Regions from separate parts of the Homo sapiens genome. Here all the other regions are linked to region 3. Evidence: fine-mapped expression QTL. A gene starts in region 3. Each other region holds a variant in brackets. All regions are shown on one strand. Distances are between the middles of the regions.

Evidence for each region. PIP is the estimated chance that this variant, and not a neighbour inherited with it, causes the effect.
Region 1: its variant is the best candidate, but not a certain one, in a credible set for the expression of EML5 in lung (TOPMed, PIP 0.82).
Region 2: its variant is the best candidate, but not a certain one, in a credible set for the expression of EML5 in whole blood (TOPMed, PIP 0.63).

What each region holds. Positions count from the first base shown.
Region 1 is chr14:88,646,479-88,657,365 of GRCh38, reverse strand. It overlaps EML5 (EMAP like 5), which reads left to right. Exons shown (of 44, transcript NM_183387.3): 28 at 7,440-7,454; 29 at 10,411-10,419. Among named protein-coding and RNA genes, the nearest start is that of ZC3H14, 89 kb to the right of the region's middle. The variant C/T (reference allele first, on the strand shown) is at 6,235.
Region 2 is chr14:88,829,868-88,837,867 of GRCh38, reverse strand. It overlaps TTC8 (tetratricopeptide repeat domain 8), which reads right to left. Exons shown (of 15, transcript NM_144596.4): 2 at 4,146-4,175. Among named protein-coding and RNA genes, the nearest start is that of TTC8, 9.2 kb to the right of the region's middle. The variant C/T (reference allele first, on the strand shown) is at 4,246.
Region 3 is chr14:88,786,662-88,797,548 of GRCh38, reverse strand. EML5 (EMAP like 5) reads left to right here and starts at 4,596. Exons shown (of 44, transcript NM_183387.3): 1 at 4,596-5,242. The coding sequence starts at 5,046. RefSeq lists silencers at 4,456-4,815, 5,006-5,085.

The DNA of each region.
Region 1 (10,887 bases), 140 kb after region 3:
AGTTTAGTATTAGATGAAGAAAAAGATATTGTCATTAAAAATGGAATTTATTATTTAAGTGGCTTTTTTACACAAACTAAGTAACAGTGATATTCTTGCTATAGACAATTCACAGCACCTCTTAGAAAGTATGTCTGTCTTTAAATACCTTTTGGTATCAGCCTGGGTGATGTAGTGAGACCTTGTCTCTATGGAAATATAAAAATAATCCAGGTTTAGTGGTGTGTGTTTGTAGCCCCAGCTACTTCAAAGGCTGAGGCAGGAGCATTGCTTGAGCCCAGGAAGTTGAGATTGCAGTGAGTTATGATTGGTGCCACTGCACTCCTACCTGAGTGTCAGAATGAGGCCCTGTCTCAAAAAAAAATACCCACAAAAACAAAACCCTATTGATGGTAACACTATGTGTTAACACTATTGGTTTAGGGATTTATACATGTTTATAAGGTTGATATGATTCATCTTATTTGCTAACTTTTATAAATGTGTGTGATGAGGTTGGAGGAGATAATAAAAATTGAATCCAATACCGAGTACTTTTTAAGAAGTATGTGAGCAGTATTGTGATTCAATTTTGAAAAGGCCTGCCTATCCATGTGCCTTTCTTTAAGCATAGTCAGTCCTCATTTCAAAAATTTTCTAAAAAGGCAGGTTGTCTTTAATGGGAATTATTGGTCTTAGTCTAGAATCAGCAAATAAAAAAGTAAGGACATATGCAAGGCCATTTTATGAGGAGAGATCACTTTTTTTTAATTATACTTTAAGTTCTGGGATACATGTGCAGAACGTGCAGGTTTGTTACATAGGTATACATGTGCCATGGTGGTTTGCTGCATCCATCAGCCCATCATCTACATTAGGTATTTCTTCTAATGCTATCCCTCCCCTAGCTCCCCACTCCCTGACAGGCCCCAGTGTGTGATATTCCCCTCCCTGTGTCCATATGTTCTCATTGTTCAACTCCCACTTATGAGTGAGAACATGTGGTGTTTGGTTTTCTGTTCCTGTGTTAGTTTGCTGAGAATGATGGTTTCCAGCTTCATCCATGTCCCTGCAAAGGACATGAACTCATCCTTTTTTATGGCTGCATAGTATTCCGTGGTGTTTATGTGCCACATTTTCTTTATCCAGTCTATTATTGATGGACATTTGAGTTGGTTCCAAGTCTTTGCTATTGTGAACAGTGCTGTAATAAATATACATGTGCATGTGTCTTTATAGTAGAATGATTTATAATCCTTTGGGTATATACCCAGTAATGGGATTCCTGAGTCAAATGGTATTTCTAGTTCTAGATCCTTGAGGAATTGCCACACTGTCTTCCACAATGGTTGAACTAATTTACACTCCCACCAACAGTGTAAAAGCATTGCTGTTTCTCCACATCTTCTCCAGCATCTGTTGTTTCCTGACTTTTTAATGATCACCATTCTAACTGATGTGAGATGGTATCTCATTGTGGTTTCGATTTGCATTTCTCTAATGACCAGTGATGATGAGCTTTTTTTCATGTTTTTTGGCCACATAAATATCTTCTTTTGAGAAGTGTCTGTTCATATCCTTAGCTTTTTGATGGGGTTGTTTCTTTCTTGTAAATTTGTTTAAATTCTTTGTAGATTCTGGATATTAGCCCTTTGTCAGATGGATAGATTGCAAAAATTTTCTCCCATTCTGTAGGTTGCCTATTCACTCTGATGATGGTTTCTCTTGCTGTGCAGAAGCTCTTTAGTTTAATTAGATCCCATTTGTCAATTTTTGCTTTTGTTGCAATTGCTGTCAGTGTTTTAGTCATGAAGTGTTTGCCCATGCCAAGTCCTGAATGGTATTAGCTAGGTTTTCTTTTAGGGTTTTTATGGTTTTAGGTCTTATGTTTAAGTCTTTAATTCACCTTGAGTTAATTTTTGTATAAGGTATAAGGAAGGGGTCCAGTTTCAGTTTTCTACATACGGGTAGCTAGTTTCCCCAACACCATTTATTAAAGAGGGAATCCTTTCTCATTGCTTGTTTTTACCAGGTTTGTCAAAGATCAGATTGTTGTAGATATGTGGCATTATTCCTGAGGCCTCTGTTCTGTTCCATTGGTCTATATATCTGTTTTGGTACCAGTACCATGCTGTTTTGGTTACTGTAGCATTGTAGTATAGTTTGAAGTCAGCTAGCATGATGCCTCCAGCTTTGTTCTTTTTACTTAGGATTGTCTTGGCTATATGGGCTCTTTTTTTAGTTTCATATGAAATTTACAGTAGTTCAATTCTGTGAGGAAAGTCATTGGTAGCTTGATGGGGATAGCATTGAATCTACTTTAAACCAACAAAGATCAAAAAAGACAAAGAAGGGCATTACATAATGGTAAAGGGATCAATGCAACAAGAAGACCTAACTTTCCTAAATATATATGCACCCAATACAGGAGCACCCAGATTCATAAACCAAGTTCTTAGAGACCTACAAAGAGACTTAGACTCCCACACAAAAATAGTGGGAGACTTTAACACCCCACTGTCAATATTAGATCAACGAGACAGAAAATTAACAAGGATAATCAGGAGTTGAACTCAGCTCTGGACAAACGGACCTAATAGACATCTACAGAACTGTCCACCCCAAATCAACAGAATATACATTCTTCTCAGCACCACATCACATTTATTCTAAATTTGACCACATAATTGGAAGTAAAACACTCCTCAGCAAATGCAAAAGAACAGAAATCATAACAAACAGTCTCTCAAACCATAGTGCAATTGAATTGGAACTGAGGATGGAGAGACTCACTCTGAACCATACAACTACATGGAAACTGAACAACCTGCTCCTGAATTACTACTGGGTAAATAACAGAATTAAGGCAGAAATAAATAAGTTCTTTGAAACCAATGAGAACAAAGAATACAGCATACCAGAATCTCTGGGACACAGCTAAAGCAGTCTTTAGAGGGAAATGTATAGCACTAAATGCCCACAGGAGAAAGTGGGAAAGATCTAAAATCAACATCCTAACATCACAATTAAAAGAACTAGAGAAGCAAGAGCAAACAAATTCAAAAGCTAGTAGAAGACAAGAAATAAAGATCAGAGCACAACTGAAGGAGAGAGAGACACAAAAAACCCTTCAAAAAATCAGTGAATCCAGGAGCTGGTTTTTTGAAAAGATTGACAAAATAGATAGACTGCTAGCCAGACTAATAAAGAAGAAAAGAGAGAAAAATCAAAAAGACACAATAAAAAATGTTAAAGAGGATATCACCACTGATTGCACAGAAATACAAACTACCATCAGAGAATGCTATAAAGACCTCTACGCAAATAAACTAGAAAATCTAGAAGTGGATAAATTCCTGGACACATACACCCTCCCAAGACTAAACCAGAAGTGGAATCCCTGAATAGACCAATAACAAAGTCTGGAATTGAGGCAGTAATTAATAGCCTACCAACCAAAAAAAAGCCCAGATGGATTCGCATCCGAATTCTACCAGAAGTACAAAGAGGAGCTGGTACCATTCTTCTGGCTATTCCAAACAATAGAAAAAGAGAGACTCCTCCCTAACTCATTTTATGAGGTCTGCATCATCTTGATACCAAAACCTGGCAGAGACACAACAAAAAAAGAAAATTTCAGGCCAATATGCCTGGTAAACATCGATGTGAAAGTCCTCAGTAAAATACTGGCAAACTAAATCCAGCAGCACATCAAAAAGCTTATCCACCACAATCAAGTCGGCTTCATCCCTGGGATGCAAAGCTCATTCAACATACCAAAATCAATAAATGTAATCCATCACATGAACAGAACCAATGACAAAAACCACATGATTATCTCAATAGATGCAGAAAAGGCCTTCGATAAAATTCAGCACCCCTTCATGCTAAAAACTCTCAATAAACTAGGTTTTGATGGAACATATCTCAAAGTAATAAGAGCTATTTATGACAAACCCACAGCCAATATCATACTCAATGGGCAAAAACTGGGAGCATTCCCTTTGAAAACCGGCACAAGACAAGGATGCTGTCTCTCACTACTTTGATTCAACATATTGTTGGAAGTTCTGGCCAGGGCAATTAGGCAAGAGAAAGAAATAAATGGTATTCAAATAGGAAAAGAGGAAGTCAAATTGTCTCTGTTTGCAGATGACATGATTTTATATTTAGAAAACTCTATTGTCTCAGCCCAAAATCTTCTTAAGCTGATAAGCAAGTTCAGCAAAGTCTCAGGATACAAGATAAATGTGCAAAAATCACAAGCATTCCTCTACACCAATAATAGACAAACAGCCAAATCATGAGTGAACTCCCATTCACAACTGCTACACAGAGAATAAAATACCTAGGAATACAACTTACAAGGGATGTGAAGGACCTCTTCAAAGAGAGGTACAAACCACTGCTCAAGGAAATAGGAGAGGACACAAACAAATGGAAAAACATTCCATGCTCATGGATAGGAAAAAATCAATATCGTGAAAATGGCCATACTGCCCAAAGTAATTTAGAGATCACTTTTTAATAAAGTCTCTGAGCTAGATGACAGATTAAGAAATAAATTGTGAAACTAGTGTTTCAAAATCAAAGGTGGTAAACAATAAAAAGGGATATGGAGCATTGAATGGCATGGACTTCAGAAGCAAAGAGGTTTAAAGAACAAAAAAGGAAAAGATCCAGAAACAGTAAGAAGGAACAGAGGGAGTGGGAGGTGAGAACAAGGTTGTGGTGAGGAAAACTTTATTATGAGAAGTTAGTGGACAATTTGAGGGAGAAATTAAAAGGGAATTCATTCACAGTTGAACAGGATTTGTAGAAAATTCAAGCGAATTTGTGGCCATTTAGGATAGTGCTGAAGAATTTTGGAACTCAGAGAGATAGAAATGACTACAGGAAAGCTTCGTCAGAGGGATTTGAGTTTGCACCTATGGATTTTATATTCGGGGAAAGGGATGAAGTTAAGGTGAAAAACACGTTAGTAATGGGGAAGGGAGAACTGAGAGATCTTGTAAATTGACTGACCCCCGCGTTGCCAGGGAAGTCTAGATGGAGTGTTAAGGGCGCAGTGCCTCCTCAGCTCCTTTTCCAGGTGTCGTTTGCTGATGGTATACCTCATGTACCTCAGATCATAGCAATGGGAGGTCACCTAAGGAAAGGGGATGGAGAGTGATCATCCAGTTTTTCATTATGTATAAAGAGGCAAAGTATTAAATTAGGGATATTTTTAAGAAAGCACAGTATACCATAATCTAAGTACTTGTACAGAATTCCATGTTTCAAGTAACTTGCTAGAATGCAGCATCGTATAGTGCAAAGGACATGAATTCTGGAGTCAGACAAATGGGTAAAATACTCATTTTTTTCATTACCAGTTGTGTGAGTTTGAAAAATTATTCATTCTTTCTGAACCTCAGTTTCCTCAGTGGCAAAATGAACATTATAATCCCTAACTTATGGTATATTTCAAGTTTTAAATGAAATAATGTAAATCAAGAATTTAGATAGTAGGTCTTCATTAATGACACCTTATCCCTTGGAATGAAATGAAAGTTAACTGAGGAGATACCTGGTAAATACTTAAACATTATTTCTGAAATTAAATATTCACAAAGCAATAAGCGCTACATATGTATTTATTAGATAAATACAGATAAATATGAAAATATAATATTATTTAAATATTCTAATTAGAATATTTGAAGTGTAGTGTTTAATATGACTTAAGGAAAATTATGTCTCCTAAGTAATGAAAAGTGAAAAGTGTTCTATGGGGAAGAAGGGGCTCTAGACATTCCCATAAATTTCTTTCATTTGTTATATTGATTTTTTAAAAAAATTATTTATTGGATAAATTTGGTATGTCAGAAAATGTGACCTAATTTTAATCTGTAGTCTGCTTCATTCACGGTAAAACACTTAAATGTAAATTTCCACCCATTGCTGAAGTGAGGCATGTTCTGACAGATGGAAATATTTTACTACTCATGAAGAATGATTAACACTGTCATAACTGAAATCTTTGATGTTAGCTTGTATATTCTGCAGCTAACTTTTTCAAAGTAATTTTTCAAATTGCTTTGCATTTTGTTCTCAATTTACTTTACAATTTCAACCCTGCTAAATATTTTGAAAATGACAAGGTGTGGGGAGGGAGAGAGAGGGTCTGTTGGCCCCCGTGGCAGAGTCCAAGCTCTACTCTTTGCCTTAAAAAAAAAAAAAAAAAAAAAAAGAAAATGACAAGGCAGAAGTCAT[C/T]AATGTGATTTCATTTTCACAAAATGAAAAAAAATCAAAGGAGATTACAAATGAAGAGGTTCATATCTCTTTTACCAACTTAGAATATTTGTGAGGAGATAATATGGTTCATGGTTTATTTAAATAATTGCTTTTTAGTAACATATATTACTGTCATAAATATGAAATAAAGCACTTTATATGGAAAACAGGCCAGGTGCTGTGCCTCATGCCTGCAATCTCAGTGCTTTGGGAGGCTGAAGTGGGAGGACTGCTTGAGACTAGGTGTTTAGCACCAGCCTGGGTAACACAGCAAGACCCCATTTCTACAAAAAATAGAAAAATTAGCCAAGAATGGTAGTACATGCCTGTACCAGGAGGTTCCTACTCAGGAGGCTGAGCAGGAGGATTGCTTCAGCCCAGGAGTTGGAGGCTGCAGTGAGCTATGATCGCACCCTTGCACTCCAGCTATGGCAGCAGAGTGGGATCCTGTCTCTGGGAGAATAAATAAATGAAAAAAAAATTAAAAACAATTAAATACTTATCAAATATCCACTTAAAAGGAAAAATGCTTCTGATGACAATAACCATTCTATTTGGTTGATACTTTCGTGGATGTTTTTCCTAAGTGATAATTTTACCTTTTTCTTTTTTAATAAATGTTTTTGTTTTTATTTTTTTGTTTTGTTTTGTTCTTTTGAGACAGAGTCTTGCTGTGTCGCCCAGGCTGGAGTGCAGTGGCACGATTTTGGCTCACTACAACCTCCAACTCCTGGGTTCAAATGATTCTCCTGCCTCAGCCTCCTGAGTAACTGGGATTACAGGCAGGCACCACCACGCCCAGTTATTTTTTGTTATTTTTAGTAGAGACGGGGTTTCACCATGTTGGCTAGGCTGGTCTCGAACTCCTGACCTCAAGTGATTCACCCACCTCAGCCTCCCGAAGTGCTGGGATTACAGGCATGAGCCACCTTGCCCAGCCAATAAATGTTTTTATAACAAATATTATGTATTTAAAGTAGTTAATTTTTGTCAAATTTCCAGTATTTGTGAATAAAAATATTTAAATCAATGTTTAAACCAATGTGACATAAGTTAGACATTTTTGTATTTCCTTAAAATTCTGTTGACATGTTGCCTTTCTTCTGTTTGCTAAAATGCTGTATTCTATTCATCATCAATTTTTATATGTTTTCCTACTTTTTTCCCCCTTGCTCCTTTTGAAGGCAGGGAGTAGTAAGGTAAGTGTTTTATAAAAGAAAATATTTTATTCAAAAATTTACCCTTTATTTTATTCTTTATGGTATTTTAAGGTATTTTTTCCCTATAAAACATTTAACTACATTTGTCAACAAAGCATTATAAAATGAAGTAGGACAAATTCTATAAAAGAGTTGCATTTTTAGATAGCATATATGGTTGTTATTATAAGGGTCTTCATTATGATAAATTGTTTTACATATGACTGTACAAACTACTACAATGCAAATGAATAGTTTTGGTTTTCTTTAAGTTTCAGAGGCTCGTAAAAACAAACCTAACCACACATATATTTAAGTGAAAGACTATTCAATTTTAAACCTGTTAACATGATTTAATGCATGTTTAATCCATTCATTTAAAAAGATGAAAAGAGGGTAACTATGGTATTTGTATGTTTAATAAAATGACATGTAGGTAAAGACTCTTTGGGTTACTTTTATATCTACCTTTGGTGATGTGAAAATGTCTTGAAAGAGTTTCTGAAACGACAGTGTGGAAATGGCTAGTCTGTTTTATAAATTAAAAAAGGTATCATGGCTGGGCACGGTGGCTCAGGCCTGTAATTGTGGCTCAGGCCTGTAATCTCAGCACTTGGGAAGGCCGAAGTGAGAGGATTGCTAGAGCCTGGGAGTTCAAGACCAGCCTAGACAACATGATGAGACCCTGTCTCTACAAAAAATAAAAGTAAAAATAAATTAGCTGGGTGTGGTGGCAGCCCTGTGGTCCCAGCTACTCAGGAGGCTGAGGTGAGAGGGTCTCTTGAGCCTGGGAGTTTGAGGCTGCAGTGAGCTGTGATGGCATCACTACACTCCAGCTTGGGCAACACAGCAAGACCCTGTTTCGGGGGTGGGGGGTGGCGGGAGGAAGGTATCACTAGGAAAATGCTGGGAGATAAGGATGAAAACAGTAGACTTGAGACCAGATGGTGCAGAAACTCAAATAATAGGCACCTGTTAATATTATATCTACAGCAGGAATCCATCATCTGTTTTAAGCAGAGTGGTGTGTACAAAGATATGAGTTCAGAGTATGAAGCAACCTCTAAAATGGGCCATAAAATCTTATACTATTTTACCAGAAATAAAGCACCCGGATCTAGCCTCACATCTAGAATAGCTTACTCAGTACTGATCTCTACATTTTAAAGGAGACTTGGATAGTTTATAATGGGCTAGAAGAAAGCACAGGAGGAAGGGAGGTTGGGAGGCCACTTCATATAAAGAATAGTTAATTGACCGGGTGCAGTGGTTTATGCCTGTAATCCCAGCACTTTGGGATGTTAAGTTTGAAGGATCAGTTGAGGCCAGGAGTTAAAGATCAGCCTAGCCAATCTGATGAGGCACCGTCTCTACAAAAAAAATTTTAAAAATTAGCAGGGTGTGGTGGTGTGCACCTGTGGTCCCAGCTACGTGGGATGCTGTGGCAGGAAGATGTCTGGAGCGTGGGAGGTCAAAGCTCAAGTAAGCCATGATCACACCACTGCACTCTAGCTTGGGTGACAGAGCAAGACCCTGTCTCAAAAAAATATAATAATTATTATTCTGGGAATCTTGTTTCAAAACAAGAAAACTAAATGGAGATATCATTGTTATCTTGGATATGAATGGCTTTTTATGTAGAAGAGACCTGTCACAAGCAGTATTTATACAGAGTTTAGATGATTAGTTGTCATCAAAGCTGTACAATGATTGTTCTAGACATGTAAAGAAGGTTCCTGGTCTCAGTGGGAAAATGGATGAAATGACTTTCATGATTCCTTCCAATTTTGTTTTGATCATTATGCTATTAAGAGAGAAAAAAAACTTTTTAAAGATTACTTTTTTTACTAGCAAAATTCTAAATTCAGCATAGTCCCGAGTGACTAATTCTGCCTGCTTGGATTCACTGACTGGGGAACCCTCTTAGGTCAGAACAGGTGGAACTTAGGCTCTTTAGACAATTTCCTTTGAAGTATCTCCAGTGCTACCAGCTTTTTAAATTAACATTTTAGTGCCAGTGCCCATTCTTAAAAACAAAAATAAGCTTAAATGTTTTGTTTAAAATTCAGATTATATTGCAGAAAAATAAGAATGGCAAGCTTTAAAGTTCACAACATGAAATATATTGAATTCTCATTTATTTGTTTTTTTCTTTTTTCACCTTTCTTGTGATTCCCTGTTATTAATTAATGGAGTAACCCTTTTTTTTTTTTTTTTTTTTTTTGAGACGGTCTCACTCTGTTACCTAGGCTGAGTGCAGTGATGTGATCACAGCTCACTGCAGCCTTGACCTTCCAGGTCAAGTGATTCTCCCACATCACCCTCCCATGTAGCTGGGACTATAGGTGCCACAGGCCTGGCTAATTGTTGTGTTTTTTATAGAGATGGGGTCTCACAGTGTTGCCCAGGCTGGTCTCAAACTCCCAGGCTCAAGCAATCCTCTTGCTTTGGCCTCTCAAAGTGCTAGGATTACAGGTGTGAGCCACTGTGCCCAGCCTTATGCCTTTTCTTTATTCTTTTTTCTTTCTTTTTTTTCTTTTTTTTGAGATGGAGTCGTGCTCTGTCGCCCAGGCTGCAGTGCAGTGGCGCATGCAGTCTTGGCTCACTGCAACCTCCGTTTCCTGGGTTCAAGCAGTTCTCCTGCCTCAGCCTCCTGAGTAGATGGGATTACAGGTGCGTGCCACCATGCCTGGCTAATGTTTTTTGTATTTTTAGTAGAGACGGGATTTCACCATGTTGGCCAGGCTGGTCTCGAACTCCTGACCTCGTGATCCTCCTGCCTTGGGCTCCCAAAGTGCTGGGATTATAAACTAAAAACAACAGGCCTTTAATATTATGCAATATAGCTGTCTGCATTAAACTTGTTAAAATATTTTATTACAGGAGGTATTTCACTAGTGTTTTCAATTCAAATTTATGTTGTAATCTTTTTCCCTCTTTATCTGCTGCTGAAAAGAGGTTCCAGGTAATCCTCTCTTTGCTGTGTTTACAAAGCCTAACTTTGTATTTTTGTCATCTTCCATATTTAGCATTAATGGGATACTGTTACTTAGTGTTCTTTACCTCTCTTCACAGTTTTGCACATTTTTTTCCTTTGGAATTGGTATCACTGAAATGAATAACATCTTAATTATTGGACTTACTCTGTATAAGTAACTGCTTTACTAAAACTTATCCATTCAACTTGTATAATTTTATAAGTTGTATAATTTTATTTTCAGCAATGATATACCTTATATAAATGATATTTATAAAAATTAAAATATGCTTAAATGATCTTTATAAAAATTAAAATGTGGTTAATTGTTATATAGGATTATATAGATAAAAATTACCTGTTTATTGTTTGGGTTACATTTAAAGCTGTCAGACAGTAACATAGAATAATATTCACCAACAAAATTGACTTGGGGAAAAAAGCAAGGCTTCTATC
Region 2 (8,000 bases), 42 kb before region 3:
AACTCCAATTGGAACTGTGAGAGCCAACAAAGTATAGAAAAAAAATCTCAGGTTTTCACTCATCAAAGATCAGGAACAATACCATATCTATACAACTGTTCCCAGGGATCGGGGAAGTCCTCAATGGCTTGAGCTAATGTTCTAATTTAACTTCAAAGATGGAAATAGGCAATACTGATTTATATTAAATCTCTACAGGTCATACTGCCCTGCCAGTATCTGACAGCTTTGATTTTTCAAAAGAGCATTCTTTGCTCAGCACTCTCTGGTGGACAGGAAGGACTACAGCATTTTCTGTTGGAACAGCAAAGCACAACATGGGCTCTGCTTGTTCATTCCCATATTACCAGGGGGCACCTACTGCATGCTACATCCTGAGTATACAAAGAGGAGTAAATCATAGTCCTAGTTCTAACTGGAAAGAATTTCCATGTAATGGGAAAAATGTAATAACAAAAATGAAAAACAAAAAGAAGTGTGTGATAGAACAGAGGAAATGTGTCCAGCTACCTGGGAGTGGAAGGAAGGGTAGAAGTGAAGAATTGGGCCCAGCGGACAGGCAAAGTGGACAATAGGCAGGCTAGCTAGAGAGCCTATGGCATGTTTGGAAACTCTAGGAGAATTGAGTGTAGGTGAAGAATGAGGGAAGAGGTTGGAGAAAAAGTCAGGAGCCAGGTGATGGATCCTGTATGCCGCAGTGAGGTATGTAAATTTTTATCCTGATGAGAAGCTAATGAGGCTTCAGAACTATGATTTGGAGTCCTACCTAAATCAAGTTTATTTATTTATTTATTCATTTACTTTTTGAGATGGAGTTTTGCTCTTGTTGCCCAAGCTGGAGTACAATGGCGTGATCTCGGCTTGCTGCAACCTCCGCTTCCTGGGTTCAAGCAATTCTCCTGCCTCAGCCTCCCAAGTAGCTGGGATTACAGGCACGTGCCACCACGCCCAGCTAATTTTCTGTATTTTTAGTAGAGATGGGGTTTCACCATGTTGGTTAGGCTTGTCTCGAACTCCTGACCTCAGGTGATCCACCCTCCTTTGCCTCCCAAAGTGCTGAGATTACAGGCGTGAGCCACCATGCCCAGCCTTAAGTTTTAAACATCAAGTTTTATCATTATAGCAGCATTTATATAGTTGGTTATTAATATATTTTACTTTTAACTATTTTCAAATTCATACTGTTATTTCATAGTCCAATTCATCATGATTCTTGACATCCATCCCCCAACTGACGTCTTAAATATTAAAGAGTTAGAAATTTTTTATATTAGGCTAAGCAAAATATAGAAAAGAAAATCCACTCTTCCTTCCCTGCAATATGAATAAATACTTCCGAAGTCAAAGTCAAATAGGAACTTTTTTTTTTTTTTTTTTAAGACAGGCTCTCACTCTATCTCCCAGGCTGGAATGTAGTGGTGCAGCCTCAACCTCCAGAATTCAGGTGATCCTTCCACCTCCCACCTCAGGTCTCAGGTTCCAGAGTAGCTAGGACTACAGGTGTGTACTATCACACCCAGCTTTTTTTGTTTGTTTGTTTGCAGAGATGGGATCTCACTTTGTTGCCCTGGCTGGTCTTGAACTCCTGGTCTCAAGTGATCCTCCTGCTTTGGCCTCCTAAAGTGCTGCGTTTACAGGTGTGAGCCACTGCACCAAGGCTAGGAATATCTTTTTAAAATTTTTATTCCGTAAGAATCCACTTTTTCAAAAAGATAGAAAAATATTAATTTAATTTCTAAAATATGATTCTTAAGAAACAATGGTATGAATTTTTGATATTTACAGCTCTAGAATAAAATCTACTCAGACTGTTATTCAATTTTAAATTTTATCAGTGTTTGAGAAAATTAATCTTCCTGAGTTCTCTTCTGTCCTAACAAAAATGACCTTGAAAATCACATATCACTGCTTGATTAAACATCAGACTGTTTTCAAAGAACTGCTCCTGGCAATGTGAACAATTCTTGAGATTTTAATGAAAACAGCAGAAGGAGCTTTGGCTTTAAAAAAATAATAATTTTTTTTTACTTTGGAAACAAGCCAAGTATGTTTCACATCCCTAAAATCCTCTGCCTGTTTTAAAAAAACAAACCAAAAAAAAGTTTAAAACTAATCAGTGATTAAAATAAAATGAATAACAAAGCACACACAGTAATCCCAAACTACCCCTTAAAACTAAATAAAAATATAAATTTGCCTTATCAGATATGTTTACTTATTAACAAATGGGAGGGTCACACAGTTTTTAAAAAATAGTTTATGTAAATTTATTTAAATATTTATGTATTAGAAGTACCATAATATCAATAAAAATAAGAATTGATGCTTTTGGAACTTTGTTTTTTAAGGGAAAAGCACAGATTCTCCCAAACCAAATGAATAATCATATCAATTTTTCCCTTTTTATCTGTGAAACACAATCCCATCTCACTCACCAACTGAGTTAGTCTATAGGACATTACTCCTGAAGCAGATACTTGCCAGCAAACATCAGGAAAATATTGACTCACTCATTCCATCCACTGTGACACTAGTTCAGTTTTAGTTATAAAAATAAACAGATGAAGGGGTTAAAACTCTGCTGACTGAGCAAAGCATGTTTAAATTATTCTGTTACTCTTAATACAGAATGCAAGGCCAGTAGATTAAAGCATGTAAGAAACAATTTTAGGTTATTATTAGAATAAGGCTATGAAAGGAACAGTCTGTCTGACCTGATTTAGCATCATAAGACTCAGTAACTATGGCCACTCTGCCTACTCTATGAAAATGAAAACTTAGGCACAAGATACTGAATTGTTATTGTATATAGCCTCATTCCTTTTGAAGTTGTAACAGTGTGCAAAAATAAGAAATTCCAAAAGTGGAAATAGTAAGGCCAAAAGAATCTAGTCAGCCTTGTTCCCTTTTGTATCATTATCCAGTGAATAATTAAGTCTATACAAACAGAACAGGAAAATAATGCCAAATACAGATTTTTCATGAGTCCTTGTGCTAGTTTAAAGCTCTTAAATGCCATTTATAGTTTTAAAACCATTTCTACAATGCAAATTATTGATGTTTTAAATTTTAATCAAAATCTTCCAAATTTCCTGAGAACAAAATCCACAGTATTTATAACTTTGATCCTTCTTGAATGACTTGTACCCATATTATGCAAAAAAAAAAATAGTTTTGCCCCATCTATCAGTTTGTAAATCAAGATTATGAACATTCAAAAGACAAATGTCAGCCTTTTAAAGAACACAGTGCCACATTTTAACCTATTTACAGTGTGTGTTTAATACTACACAAGCCTCCATAAGAGTACTTTGTAAATTGCTTTTTATTCTAAAAGGTTTGCTAATTACACATATGGACCCCTAATAAGGTTCAAGTCTTTTATTTACCTAAAAAAACCGCTGTTAACATTCCATCTCGCTTGGTAGGGCTAACACCTGGCAACATTTAAGCTCTCTGATTTATAACTCTGCACAACTTCTCTCCTTAGTCCCAGACTCACTGGCAACTCTCCTGGATTAAAAGTATCACTGGCCAGGTGTCCCCCTCCTCTCTCCCAGGGTTTCCTCCCAATTCATTCTCTTGTGTTTTATCCAGTTAGCAAGGCTCTAGCTGCCTCCTATCCTTATCCAAACTGATTTGCTCGATGTGACTGTCTGGCCAGTGTCCCTTTCTTCTTCCCTCACTGTGGCAGCCTCCTCCCTCTTAGAGCCACCAGGTCAGTTAAAACCAAGACCTTCCCAAGCACAGTCCACTCTTGACTCAAGACATGCCATCCCATCCATCACAGTCTTTCAGACATTTGTCATTCCGCTGACTCTCCCGCTCCCTTTCTAAGCCCTTGGTTCCCCTCACCTCCTTCTTTATTTTTCATATCCTTCTAATCCATCTTGGTCATTTCCATTTAAGCTCCAAGTCCCAATGAGTAGACTGCATTATTAGTTCTACAAGGCTATCAATATACACAAAAGTATTGAAAATATAATCATTTATTTACATAAGAAGGCACAGAATGTCTGACAGATATGGCTAATTTTATAAACCCACAGGAAGATATGCAGCAAATTTTCTAATCTATAGCAACAACTAAGCAATAGCATTAAAGAATTCTCTAAACTAAAGGTTGCAGCTAAACCTTTCTTTACCTGATGCACTGGCAATTCAGGATCTGGTTCCTGGAAAGCATTAAGAAGGCAGTAAACAGTTTTAAGAAATACAGTTTCTAAAATAAAAAGTCCTAAGGAC[C/T]AACCAAGTATTTGTAGGTGAACTCTAACTCATTCAATAAGAATCCAAAAAATTAACTTTAGTCTTCCTACAGAAGTGTTCTCAAGAGTTGTGTAAAATGAATATACATTGAAGAATGCTAAATTTTCAATGATCAGAAAATTCTAATTAATCTAACCTCATTCAAAGTGCAAAGAGATGATAACTACTTGTTTAATGAACACACAATATATCAGAAATTGAGAATAATCCCATAACTATACCAAGGAAATATTTCCTTTTATTCAAAAATAAGTTCACGGTGGTTAAAACATTCAGACTTTAATCACTTAAGGAGAAGAAGGAAAATCCACATAACACAAACCCTTCAGATAAACTCAGCATCTGGGTTTTTCTGTACAAATTAAATAGAAACCCACTGGTTAAAAAAATCAGACTTATAACAAATTTATTTATAAAACATCTACACTTACATGTCTGTCTAGTCAGCAATGTCTGTTGAGCACTCAATCTGTTTTACTGGGGAAAGTACTAAGAAACAGAAAAAGGAAAAAAGATCCTTGCTTTCTACAGCTCTAAATCCAAAAAGAACACCTCAAATATTTTTTAAGAATATATTCTTGGTACAAGCAATGTGCAAACCATATGGTCACCATGCAAGGACAGGTAATTTATTTAACATGACGCATGGTAGGAACATGAGAGGAAAAGGTTAAGTTAGGCTAGAAAATGAGGGCCCCAAAGGATGGAAGTTACAGAAGATGTGGCAATCAACTGAACCGAACACAAAACAGCAACTAGAGAACACATAGCAATTGGAGGTTTTCAACTCCAGTGCACCTACCAAGGATGTAGAAAAAGTATAGATTTCCTAAATACAGTCCAAACTTAAGGAAACACACCAATCCAGGGAATGACATGCCAGATGAAAGAAGTAACACATTCTATTCTTTCTTTCTTCTGTTTACTTGTATACATATCTCTATAGCCCATTATCTCATTTGAGTCTCATAACAACCATCTGAGGAAAGCAGGTAAGTATTATCTACTTTACAGATAAGGAAACAAATTCAGAGATGTTAAGTAATTTGTTTAAGGTCACACAAACGGTTGAGGGAATCAAATGCTCCTTCTTGCCAGTGCCTCTTGGAGATTAAAAAAAAAAGAGAGTTGGACATAGTAAGGCAGGAATGAAAGGTAAAGTTTAGGAGAGATACAAGATAAATCCAATATATTATAGAAAACTGAGGGAGAAAGTTTACTAGAGGTGATTGTAGACAATGCTTGAAAAGGAAAAAACAGCTAAAGGAGACAGAAGCCACTGATACTGGATGCTGTGATTTGCCAAGGGCAGGTAGATTCCTCCAGTGACACAAAATGAAACCACCAGCTCAGCCTCAGAGGATTTCTGCTCACTGAGGAAAGTCTCCGCGATCTCTCTGTCTTGTTCCTCTGCCCTTCAGGGATACATTTAGGGCTGATCATGTGGATGAAGAGTGTGTAGGGAAATTACAGGAAATCATCAATGTGCAGGTCAGAAGAGAAAATGAGAGGCCTAATGAGTAGGGAGGTGCAGAGACAGGTGAGGGATTGCATTGAAGGAAAATGGAGACCAGGCCTAAGTGGGTATGAGGCCAAGAACACATTAATTCCACAACATTCTAGAGGGGGAGGCACCTAAATTACAATACAATGTGTCAAATACTATACTCACATTGTGGTCAAATTATAGATGACTTAGGTGAACAAAAGAAAAGCAGAAGACATGGAAGATAAGAGAGTCAGAGAAGGGGGAGATTATTCTGGAAATTATTGAGTGCCAATGATTTATGAACTATATTCAACATCCTTTCACCATCCATTTCACTGGACATCTTCCTCAAAAATGCTTTTCAGATTCCCAGCAATCCTTTAAGAAAAATATAGATGATAGAATCCTGCATGCAAATATCTGTAGGTATACAGACAACAGCAGCTAACATTTTTTATCACTTACCACATGTTCATGAGCCTTATAACACCCTCTGAGTTATAGGTATACTATCATCACCATTTACAGATGAGAACACTCAGAGCAAGATGTTACAGGACCTGTGAGCCCCAAAATTGGGGCTTAGCCCAGGAGGGTTCTTGGCTCTGCCAAGGAAATAATTCCAGGGTGAGTCAGTGGTATTAGACAGCAATCCTTTATTGGCTGGTACTGCTCCTTGCAGAGGAGGGCTAACTCATAGGCAGTGTAGCCAGAATCAGCAACTATGGGCTCTTGGCAACTGTATTTATACTCATGAAAACCCACTTTCAATTACATGCAAATTAAGGGGTGGGCCAATGCAAATTAGGGAACAAGTTATTTAGAACTTTCTAGGAAAGGGGCAGTAACTTATAGGTTGTTGTCATGGAAAGAGGTGGTAACTTCTGGGTCATTGCCATGGCACTTTTAAACTGTCATGGCAGCTGGTGGGAGGGGTGTTCTACTGATGAGCAGTGAGGGCAGCGAGGGGTCGCTTTCCTTGCCATCTGCTGGTTTCTTCACTTTAACCTGTCTAGACTAGATCCTATTTTGGTCAGCCGTGTTGTGACCAGAAAACAAGTCCTGTTGGTCTCTTACCTCAAAGGTATAGAGGCAGTATTTGAACCTAGACACTCTGGGCCCAGAGCAGGACTCTGCTGAGTATGTGGGATGACAGCAAGGATGGAACACAGACTACCGTAGGATGTGGAGAGACCAAGGACAGGCATGGCTCTGTGGAGATCCATCAGGAGCAGGACTATGAAGGAAGAGTCGGAATGTTTTAATTAGGAGATAGGGGAAAACTCTTTTTTAAAAATCACTGAGCCTTTCCTCTTTGGGTCGCTCTCAGTTGTAGTTCTGTGATTTAAATTAATCCACCCGTGCAGCTTCACTTAGTCTAGCAAACTATTTCTACAGGTATCAGCGCAGTTGAGCAGAAAGCTCCAGGCTTTGCCCTAGAGTCAGAAGACGTGGGCTAGGCTTGATCCTCAGGGAGCCACTTAGCTGCATGACCTTGAACAAGTCATATAATCTACATTACCTTCTCAAATTAAAGCAATAGTACCTACTTCATAGGAGAATCTTAAGGACTAATAATAAAACCTTGCATTTTTAAGAAAACTTCACAACTTTTAGAGTTCTTTCACATATATTATCATACTTATTCAAGTATAAGCTTAACAGAAGCACCAAACCATCTATTACTCCCCCTTTCAGAACTCAGAACTGACTCCCAGTGATGGAAGATCAAATTAAAACTTCCTCTGAATCTCCCTCAAAGTGGGTAACAGGACATGGAAAGTAGAGTGCCACTTCCTAGAACCAGAAAATACCCATTAGCATCAACTTCAAGTCACATCTGTTTGCTTCCTTCCTTCCACCCTAGGGTTCAGCATTTTCTTAGCTTGTTTCTGTTACTTTAGGGAATTAAATCTCCAGATAATTCTGAATGCAACTTTCTAATTACCACCACTACTTATGCTGGCTAATGAGTCTCCTCAGCTTAAACTGCCGAGTCATTGTTCAAAATTTAGTAATAAAAGAAGGGGGAAAAAGTTTAAGAGAATAGAGGAATTGATGGATTTCAGAAGGTTAGAGAGATCTAGTGACCACGCAGCCAAGTGGGAGTGTAATCTGTGTAATTCAGCAGGAATACAAATTCATAAAATGACCTGCCCCACAGCGTATAGAATCAAAGGATTAAGTCTGGCTAAGTCTCCATGGCCCCAAAGAGGAAACCAATTAGATAATCACACGATATGTT
Region 3 (10,887 bases):
CATAGTGAGACCTCACCTCTACTAAAAAATAAAAAATTAGCTGAGTGCGGTGACAGATGCCTGCAGCCTCAGGTACTTGGGAGACTGAGGTAGGAGGATCAATTGAGCCTGGGAGGTCGAGGCTGCAGTGAAGTGTGATCACACCACTGTACTCCAGCCTGGGTGACAGAGCAAGACTCTGTCTCAAAAAAAAAAAAAAAAAAAGAAGGAAAGAAAGAAAACTTCCAAGTTTTCAAAGATTTCAAGTATTCAAGATAAAACTAAGAGGAATCCTATTGTGCACAACACAATAGGATTGTGCACAACATTTTCTTTTCTAATTCATGGTTGATAAATATGTAGGGAACAGCTATTGTAGTACCAGGCACTGTGGTAGGCTCTGCATGTACAATAGGCTGATCAAAGGTAAGACTACAGATATATATATATAATATGTTATATATATTATATACATATTATATATATAATATATATAACATATAATATATATAATATATAACATATAATATATAATATATATAACATATAATATATAATATATATAACATATAATATATAATATATATAACATATAATATATATATAATATATAATATATATAACATATAATATATATAATATATAATATATATAACATATAATATATATAATATATAATATATATAACATATAATATATATAATATATAATATATATAACATATAATATATATAATATATAATATATATAACATATAATGTATATAATATATAATATATATAACATATAATATATATAATATATAATATATAAAACATATAATATATATAATATATAATATATAAAACATATAATATACATAATATATATAATATATATAACATATAATATACATAATATATATAATATATAACATATAACATATATAATATATATAACATATAACATATAATATGTATAACATATATAACATATAATATATATTATATATAACATAATATATATAATATATATAACATAATATATATATAATATATATAACATATAAGAGATATAATATATATAATATATATAACATATAATATATATAATATATATAATATATAAACATAATATATATATAAAATATATATAATATATATAACATATAATATATATATAAAATATATAACATATAATATATATATAATATATATAACATATAATATATATATAAAATATATAACATATAATATATATATAATATATATAACATATAATATATATATAATATATATAACATATAATATATATATAATATATATAACATATAATATATATATAATATATATAATATATATAACATATAATATATATATAATATATATAATATATATAACATATAATATATATATAATATATATATACTTTTTTTTTTTTTGAGACAGAGTTTCACTCTTTGTTTCCCAGGCTGGAGTGCGGTGGTGCGATCTCAGCTCACTGCAACCTCCACTTCCCGGATTCAAGCGATTCTCCTGTCTCAGCCTCCCGAGTAGCTGGGATTACAGGCGCCCGCCACCATGCCTGGCAAATTTTTGTGTTTTTACTAGACATGGAGTTTCACCATGTTGGCCAGGCTGGTCTCAAACTCCTGACCACCCACCTTGGCCTCCCAAAGTGCCGGGATTAGAGGTGAGAGCCACCATGCTAGCTAGAAGTAATTGCATGAATTTTTTTTTTTTTTTTCTGAGATGGTGGCCTGCACCACCACACCCGGCTACTTTTTTTTGTATTTTTAGTAGAGATGGGGTTTTGCCATATTGGCCAGGCTGGGGAATTTTGGTTTTTATGTTTTCTACATTTTGCCTTAGATTTCTTTATAAACCTAAGGGTACCTAATCAGTAGCCAGCACATGATTTATTTGCCTGAATTTTAGAAATATTTCAAATATCTCAAATTCCATACTAGGAACTCAAGTTTCAGGAACTAGATTACCAAAGGGGGTGATATGGTTTGGCTGTATCCCACCCAAATATCACCTTGAATTGTAATAATCCCCACATGTCAAGGGTGGTGCCAGGTGGGGATAATTGAATCGTGGGGGTGGTTTCCCCCATACTGTTCTAGTGGTAGTGAATAAGTCTCATGAGATCTGATGGTTTTATAAATGGAGCTCCCCTGCGCAAATTCTTCTTGTCTGCTGCCATGTGCGACTTTGCTCCTCTTTGCCTTCCACCATGATTGTGAGGCCTCCTTAGCAATGCGGAACTGTGAGTCAATTAAACCTCTTTTCTTTATAAATTACCCAGTCTCAGGTATGTCTTTATTAGCAGCATGAGAACGGACGAATACAGGGGGTATTGCAGCCTTCGTCTGGAATGCTTAACAAATGTCCATTTGTTGATGTGTATAATTTTTTGTTTCTTTCTCCCACATCCTTATTTGCATTACTTTCACAGGATACAGATGATGGAATATCACCTAGCAATAGAAGCTTCATTAAGCTTTCTGATGTGACATTGGTAATACTGGATTATATAAAGTTGTGAGGGTAAGAACTGATCAGGTTTGTTTTTTTCTTCCTCTAGTATTCATGAATGGTTCATTTTCTAGCCACCTTTGTGCCTCGGCTGTCTCTTTTGGTCTTGAGTCGCCAGTTGAGGATGGTTTAATTAAGAATGTTTTTGCTTCGCACTCTACACTTGGGTCATTAAAATCGTAATGGAAAATATGATAATGGGAAAATAAATTACTTAAATCTCTTATTAATCTGAGTACTTAAGTGTGTATCATGGGATCCATAAGATATTGTGCTGAAAAATCCGAAACATAGAAAAAACTATATTCTTCCATCTCGTCTCATAAAATTTACATGTAACCAGTAATTAATATATCACAAATGTATAGCAACAAATATTTAATGTTTTCTAAGTTCACTGCTTGAATTTAAATAATCAACAATTTTTCTTTTTCTCACCAGGGGATTTCAAGGAACTCACTAGTGAATTAGAACATATTCTTATTAAAAAACAGAAAACGCCCTCCTGGTGACAAAGAGAAACTGTGTGTGCTTTTGCCCAGGGTACCCTACATGGGCCTTAGAGCCACTTCTCAGGCCTGATTTCTTTGTTTATTTGCAGCAGCTGCCAGAAAGCTATTCCTCTTTTTCAGATTCTGCCCAGAATGGAAACTCTTTCAGAGTTTACTTTTCATGACATCTATGTAAATTCCTTTCAGATGGCCTTTATTTCCTGCATGTAAACTGCTTGCAGATTAGAAGTCATAATCAAAGACGAAACGGTAATCCTGTCTCAAGTTAGTAACTGGCATCTTTGAGGAAGTAGACATTGGATAACATCTATTCCAATATATCTGTACCACACAGGAGTCAACCCCTTTTGGAGTCATATTTCTTGAAACGATGGTAGTTTATTTTAGCTTTTGTCAGATTTCTGTCTTGGTATTTCCTATGGAAATCAAACAGTAATTTTTAGACAATAAGGGTTCATATTGGTATATCCTGAATTAGTATTTTTTTGTTGTAAATCTTGTGGCCATCCTGAACTTAACACTTTTTAAATTGTGGATTTCCAATTATTTTTAGAGGTATTGATAAATCTTGTTCATATTCCTGTGAGAAGAGGACACAACTGAGTAGGAGGGGAAATGACATAGTCAGGAATTGATTGTTCCCAATACTTTTATTACAGGAGTTTTCTACAGGATCACAATTGAATTTATTTAATTAAGAGTAACTGTTGGTGATGTCCCAGTCATTTTTAAAAAAATCGAAGTACAATTTTTTTTTTTTTTGCTATTCGGAAATCAGATCTCACATGTCAGTTTACCATCTAAAGTCTACCTTCAGCTTTGCGGTCACTTAAGAAAACATACACTTAGGACCAGGAGCAGTGGATTGGGCCTGTAATCCCAGCGCTTTGGGAGGCCTGAGGCAGAAGAACTGCTGAAGGTCAGGAGGTGGAGACCAGCCTGGGCAACACAGCAAGACCCCCGCCTCTACAAAATAAACTTAAAAACAAAGCAAAACATTTGCCGGGCATAGTGGTACGCAACTGTACTCCTTACTACTCCGGAGACTGAGGCGGGAGGATCGCTGGAGCCCAGGAGTTGGAGGCTACAGTGAGCTGAGACTGCGCCACTCCACTCCAGCCTGGGCGACAGAGCGAGGCTCTGTTTCTAAAAATAATAATTTAAAAGCACATTTAGGAAGCTCGGCATCATTCCAATGTCTGGGTCCGAAAGCACTATAAGGCAGCAAGACACACAAGGTATCAAGCGTAAAAAAGAGAATTTAGCATCCCGGTGTGGATTTTCCCAGGCAAAAACGTGGCCTACGCTGGGTGCAGGGACCGTGCGGAACCGGCAGGTGCTTCCCGGTTGAGGACGCAAAGCAGCGGGAGCCCGGGGTCGCCGAGGGTCCGCCTGGGCTTAAGCAGCTCAACGAGGGAGGGCTCACCGGCCCGCGCACTTGCAGAGACGCGGTCCCAGCGACTCCGCAACTAGACCGTGGCCCCGCGAACTCCAGCCTCTTCTCGGCTCCGGGAGGGGCGGAGTGAGCGCGGGAGGGGGCGGGGCCACGCAAGGCCGCGCGCCCGCCGCTCGGCTCGGCTCGGCTCGGCTCGCTCGGTTTCGGGGTGCGCGGCGCGGGTCCGCCAGGCTGTGGCTACAAAGCCGCGGCGGGGCGCGAGCGCCGCAGGTGACCGGGGCTGGGAGCTGCGTGCGCGGGCGGCGGCTGAGGAGCTGGAGGCGGGCCCTCGCTCTCGGCCCAGGCGCTACGGGCTGAGGAGACTAGGCGAGCCGAGGCGGGCGAAGGGCTCTGGGCATCCACTTGACAGCCGGCGGCGCTCGCGGCCCTCAGCATGTTCCGCGAGGCGAGGGTTTTCCTCCCGCCTGTGGGCTGAGGCGGCGGCGGCCCCCGAAACGAGATGCACCTGACGGGCGCGGCTTAGAGGACGCGGCTGGCGGGAAGTCCCGGCAGCCAGCGGGAGGGCTTTCGTTGCCGGGCCGCCGCCGCCTCCCGTCGCCGCCGCGGGCCCGAGCGGGAGCGGCGGGTGGGCGCCCCGACATGGCGGCCCGGAGCGCCCCGAGCTGCCACCTGCGGCTCGAGTGGGTGTACGGCTACCGGGGCCACCAGTGCCGCAACAACCTCTACTACACTGCGGCCAAGGAGATCGTATACTTCGTGGCGGGGGTCGGCGTGGTGTACAGCCCGCGGGAGCACAGGCAGAAGTTCTACCGGGGCCACAGCGACGACATCATCAGGTACCGGGGAGCGGGGGCCGCCGCCGTCACCCTGCAAGCCGCTCCCGGAGTTTGCACCCGCGGGTTCCTCTGGACGCCGTGACCGCTCCTGCACGGAGCATCACCCCGAGGGGAATCCGCAGCTGTCTCTCTGGTCCCGAGTCCACCAGTTAACACCCTACAAATGCCTTTCCCCTCTTCCTCGTCTAGGGACTCTCTCTCGGGTCCGTGCAGGAAGATCAGGTCCGCGGATCCACCGGGCACCCGGTTTGACGGCTTTGTCCCCTTTCCCACTCCATCACAATTACGAAAACTGCGAAAAGGTTATTTTGGTGGCACTTTATTCCGTTAGATCCTGTGAGAAATTTCTTATTAAACGCATTCTTAAAGCACCCGGGGTGGGGGGAAACCCTTTACCTAATAAAGGACTGATGGAAGCACAGCAAGCGGTGGGCTGCTCCCGGGGAGCGCGCCCAGGGTGGCGTCCTGAAGGGCTCTCACCTCCTGGCCGTAATTATTAGTTCAGGTTTCACCGCCTGCTATAATCAGCAGAAACCCCAGGCAACCTCCAGGCAATTCACTGGATGTTAAAATGTGCACACCTGAAGGCAATTTAAGGTAGGTCTTATCTGAAGAGGCTGCTGAAAACTTCACTGATTTCCAGTTCTCTTCATCTTCATTAAAATACTCCTAAATAAGCTACTTTTGTATTTTCTTAAAATTAAATCGCTATTGGGGGGCTATTTTTAGTCTTCCTTGGACAATAACTCAAAGTTGGTCCCAGAGCTTGTTGACATTTCTTTAGTGAGCGGTATATTTGAAATGTAATTTTCAATCAGTGTCTTAGTACAACTTTTATGGTAAAGTCAAGAGCTTCAGAAATCATTCTAGGCCACTGATTATTGCCTCAAGCACAGCATTTTTTGTCCTTTACAGAGGAAAATATATTAAAAGCAATTGAGAATGTGTTTGTGTGGTGCTCTTGGGGTTTTATCAAAGATTCTACGATTTGGGTTTGGTTACAAAATGTTATTCCCTCATGTATGTTGCACAGGATTTAAATTGGGCATTTCAAATACGGTACCTTGGTTTGAAGTCTTGTAGGCAAGAAGCCCTGGTATGTAAATTCCACAAATAAAGTTGTTCTTCTGTTTTGCGTCTCTGTACATCTATAATATGTAAGAGGGAAAGGATGCCTAGGACAAACAGAGGTAGGGCAAGATGGAGTAAAGATAAGAAAAGACAAAATTGAGATTGCAGAGTAAGGAATGAGGTGGTGCTCTGTATTCAGTTGGTTTTTTTTGTTTGTTTTTGTTTTTTGGACACCAGAGTGCTTTTTCAGATTGTATTTAATGTATTACTTTGAAAAGGTAACTGATAAGTCATTTCATTTTTCTCAAGCTGGGACTCTGTATCGTGGTGATTAGGGTTACAGACCTATTATAATAGCCCAAATTGCTGATGGAAAAACAAAACTAAAGTAAACCCGTAGTAATTATTTATCTTCTTAGTTATCCCAAGAGTAGAGTTTACCCCAGTGTCTTGTCTTTTTCCCTAATCCTTTCAAGTCTCCCTTCTTTTCCATATGCTAGGTCTCCCAAAGTACCAGGCATAGTAGCTTTACCTAGCTGGAGCAGCCTTAACTGAAGCCCTGCTCCAGATAATTTAGTCTGTTAGGTTGAATTCAGCTGGTGGAGTAAATGTGAAGGATTTTGAGGTCTTCTCGTGGTACACTTGTATTGTTTTTACTCCTTGGGGGTTATGAGAGCAGTATAGCACTAAGGTCTTCTGAAACTAGATATGATTTATTTGGTGAGGTAAATTACATCTTGTTCTTCTAGCAGTAATTAGAAGCTGTGTTATATGTCACACCGCTTAAATTTCATAATTGTGTTTCAGTAAACTGTAAGGAAGGTAATGCTTTGACTTTCTTTTGGTATAGTTGCACAACTTATACAAAACAACAAACATACTCGAATTTCTCATCGTTGAATATACATGCTTATGATTTTATCCAAATGACACATCTTTAATGTATAACAATGAAAATAAGTTTCCTGAAAAGTTTCAATGAGGGAGTAAAATCTGAATCATACAGCATCTTGAAATTGGTGGCACAAATTTAATATGATACTGAGAATATAATTTAGGAATCAGTGAAAGGGCTCTGGACATTTTATTTCAAATAGTAATGACAGATCATTCATGTTTGTGAAATATATTGAGCTAATATTAAAACCTCAATATTTTTTCAGTTCAGTGTTTGACTTGTGAGTATAGAAACAACTCTAGTAATTTTTAAATTATGCCACAGCAGAAGATGTAATATTCACAAATGTGATGCATAGTGAAAACCAATGTTGCTGTAACCTTAGCTTTAGTAATAAAAAGTCAGTGCTGTTTTCATCATCTGTTTTGTTTCCACCTTTGCCTGAAACTTATGTAAAACTTATTGGTCAAATATTACTTAGTCTGAGGATAGAACTGTTCCAGAATGAGCAGATCATTGTCCTCAGGTTTTGAAAATGTGAGTGCAATGTTGGTGGTAAAGGCTGAATCATGACTAGTCTATCATTTGCTTACTGGTTCTTTGACCATTTTATTATCACCTGGGATTGCCAGTGGTGGTGCCACATGACATTTCATCATTTTCTCAGTAAAGGCTGAATCATGACTAGTCTATCATTTGCTTACTGGTTCTTTGACCATTTTATTATCACCTGGGATTGCCAGTGGTGGTGCCACATGACATTTCATCATTTTCTCAGTAAAGGCTGAATCATGACTAGTCTATCATTTGCTTACTGGTTCTTTGACCATTTTATTATCACCTGGGATTGCCAGTGGTGGTGCCACATGACATTTCATCATTTTCTCAGTGTTGCTTGTAGTTCTCCATCTTCTTTTTGCCATCTACTTGTGTATACTTCTCTAGTCATTTATCTTTTAGTTATATTTATCTTAGTAACTGGTTTATATGGCAATTAGTTTCAATGTCAGAAATAATATAGGGCTTTTGGGGTCACTTTTTTGTTCTTTTTCTCAAGTTATATTGATAAAATTCTCCAGTTATTCTATCAATATAAAATCTATAAATCTATAAAATCTGTATCTATAAAAATCTCTAGTCTAGATTTAAGACTAAGTTATAAAATAAGCTACTACCAGTTTTAGCATAAGATGCACATCTATACCTTGGTCTATATTTTGAAACTTTTGCCAGTTGTTACAAGAATGCGATAGCTTTTTTTTTTTTTTAAACTGAGACAGGCCCTTGCTCTGCGTCACACAGGCTATAGTGCAATGGTGCAATCACTGCTCACTGTATCTTTGAAATCTTGGGCTCAGGTGATCATCCCACCTCAGCCTCCCCAAGTGGCTGAGACCACAGATGTGGGCCATGATGCTGGGCTATTTTTTTTTTTTTTTCGGTAAAGATGGGGTCTCTGTATGTTGCCCAGGCTGGTGTGCTGGACTCCTGGGCTCAAGTGATCCTCCCACTTCCGCCTCCCAAAGTGTTGGGATTACAGATGTGAGCCACCGTGTGCAGCCAGAGTGCAATATCTTTTCAAATTTATTATTCTAGGTACTTCCCGTAAGCAAATTTTTGCAAGATTGTTCTTAAGGATATTATTGAGAGTTTACAAATAATCTATACCAGTGAAGACCATTGATGGAATATAATTAACTTGGGGCATTTTGTTATTTGACTCTGCTTTCCTTATGGGAGTCAGAGCCCATTGTTTATGTATTAAGTAGGTATAGAATTTAGAGTACTTTTTTTTTTTTTTAACATAGTGAAAGGGTCTCACCAGTTGGTGATGAGCTCAAATGACGATGCATCTGAAATATTTTGAAAAGTATACCACACTATATGGTTGCAGGTTAAAATAATAACTGTTCATTGCTTCTATGTATGGCTTTTTTAAAAGACAAAATGAAGGGTGTAGAAGCTATTTTCTTTATTTGTGGTAAATCGTGTTCTTAAGAAAAAATACTGACCAAGTCTTATTGTAGTTTAGTAAAAGTGGTTTTTGACAGCTCAGTATTTATGGTATAGAAACTTAATTTATTCAACGCAAGTCAAAATTGTAATTGGAAAAGCGATTCAGAATAACATTTGCACGGTAGATAGATTTTTTTTGTGTTTATATGGGTTCAGAGTAGCAACTTTTTAAGCTCTGGTAGGAATTACTGGAAACCTACTTGTAGTCTACTTAATGCTTCTAGATACATGCTCATGATTTCCCAAACCTGGCTTATCTTCAAAATAGTTTGAAGAGCTTTTCACCAGTTTCTAGCCTTTTGCTCAAACGCACAAAGTCAGAATCTTCTAGGGTTGGAGCCCAGGAATCTATTTTTTAAAAAGTGCCTCAGATTATTCTGTTTGGGAAACACATTGCCCCCACCATGCCTAGAATTCTTAACACAAGCCGTTTGAGAAATGGGCACAAACCCTCTCCTCAAACCTGATACCAGAGTTTTCTTAAGCACTGTGCAATATGTAGAAGTAGTGCTTCAAAAAGTATTAGAAAACATATTTAATAAAATGTCCCTGTGCTTAAGTAACTAGAATTAGATGGACTTAACATTTATTTATAGACCATGTAACAATTATATTTGGTAAGATTTCATTTTATGTGTTGCAATATCAAAATATTTATGGTTTTTTAAATATTGCATAATTTAAGGGATAAAATTAAGAGATGTTTTCCAGGAAAAGTAGGAATTAACTAGAATAATAGTTGAAGTTGTAATAGATGTGTATTAAGTATATATTCTTTAGGGAGAAGCCAGATTATTAGATTTACATTTAATTATTTTCCTTTATTATTTTATAATGTCTTATGTGCAAATATGCAGACAATTAATAAAACATGTTTTGGATATACATTAAGGAAAACGTGGAATAATGAATTATTAGAAGCTATTAAGAACTTTTATTTCAAAGTTTTCTCATCCAAGAAATATTTGTTGAGCTTCTGTTTTGTGCAAGAATCCCTGCCTTAAGATACTCAGAGTTTAGACACAATCAGATGCTCAATGAGCATATGTATACTAGGAATAGCACTAATGTACCTGTGATATGGTATGTACATGGGGATATAAAAAGTTCACAGTGTTTCTTATAGAATATAATACCTAAGCTAAGTCTTTGAGGACAATAGGGAGAAGGGTCATCAGAAGAAATGAAAGAAGGTATAGCATTCTGGGAAGAGGTAACATTGTGTGCAGTGGTTTTGTGTTATGAGAGAATATTTGAAGAATTTGCTTATACTATCTTCAGTTCCTTTTCTCCCATTTACTCTTGGCTTTGTTCTGTTTCACCATAGCAGTTCTTGTTGAGGTTACCAGTGACCTCTGCATTGCCAAATCCAGTGGTTATCAGTTCTCATCTTATTTGATTTTTCATCATGATTTGACATAGTTGGTTCATTAGTCCGTTTTCATGCTGCTGATAAAGAGATACCTGAGACTGGGAGGAAAAAGAGGTTTAATTGGATTGACAGTTCCACATGGCTGGGGAGGCCTCAGAATCATGGTGGGAAGTGAAAGGCAGTTCTTACATGGCGGCAGCACGAGAAAATGAGGAAGATGCAAAAGCCGAAACCCCTGATGAAACCATCAGATCTCGTGAGACTTACTACCATGAGAACAGTGTGGGG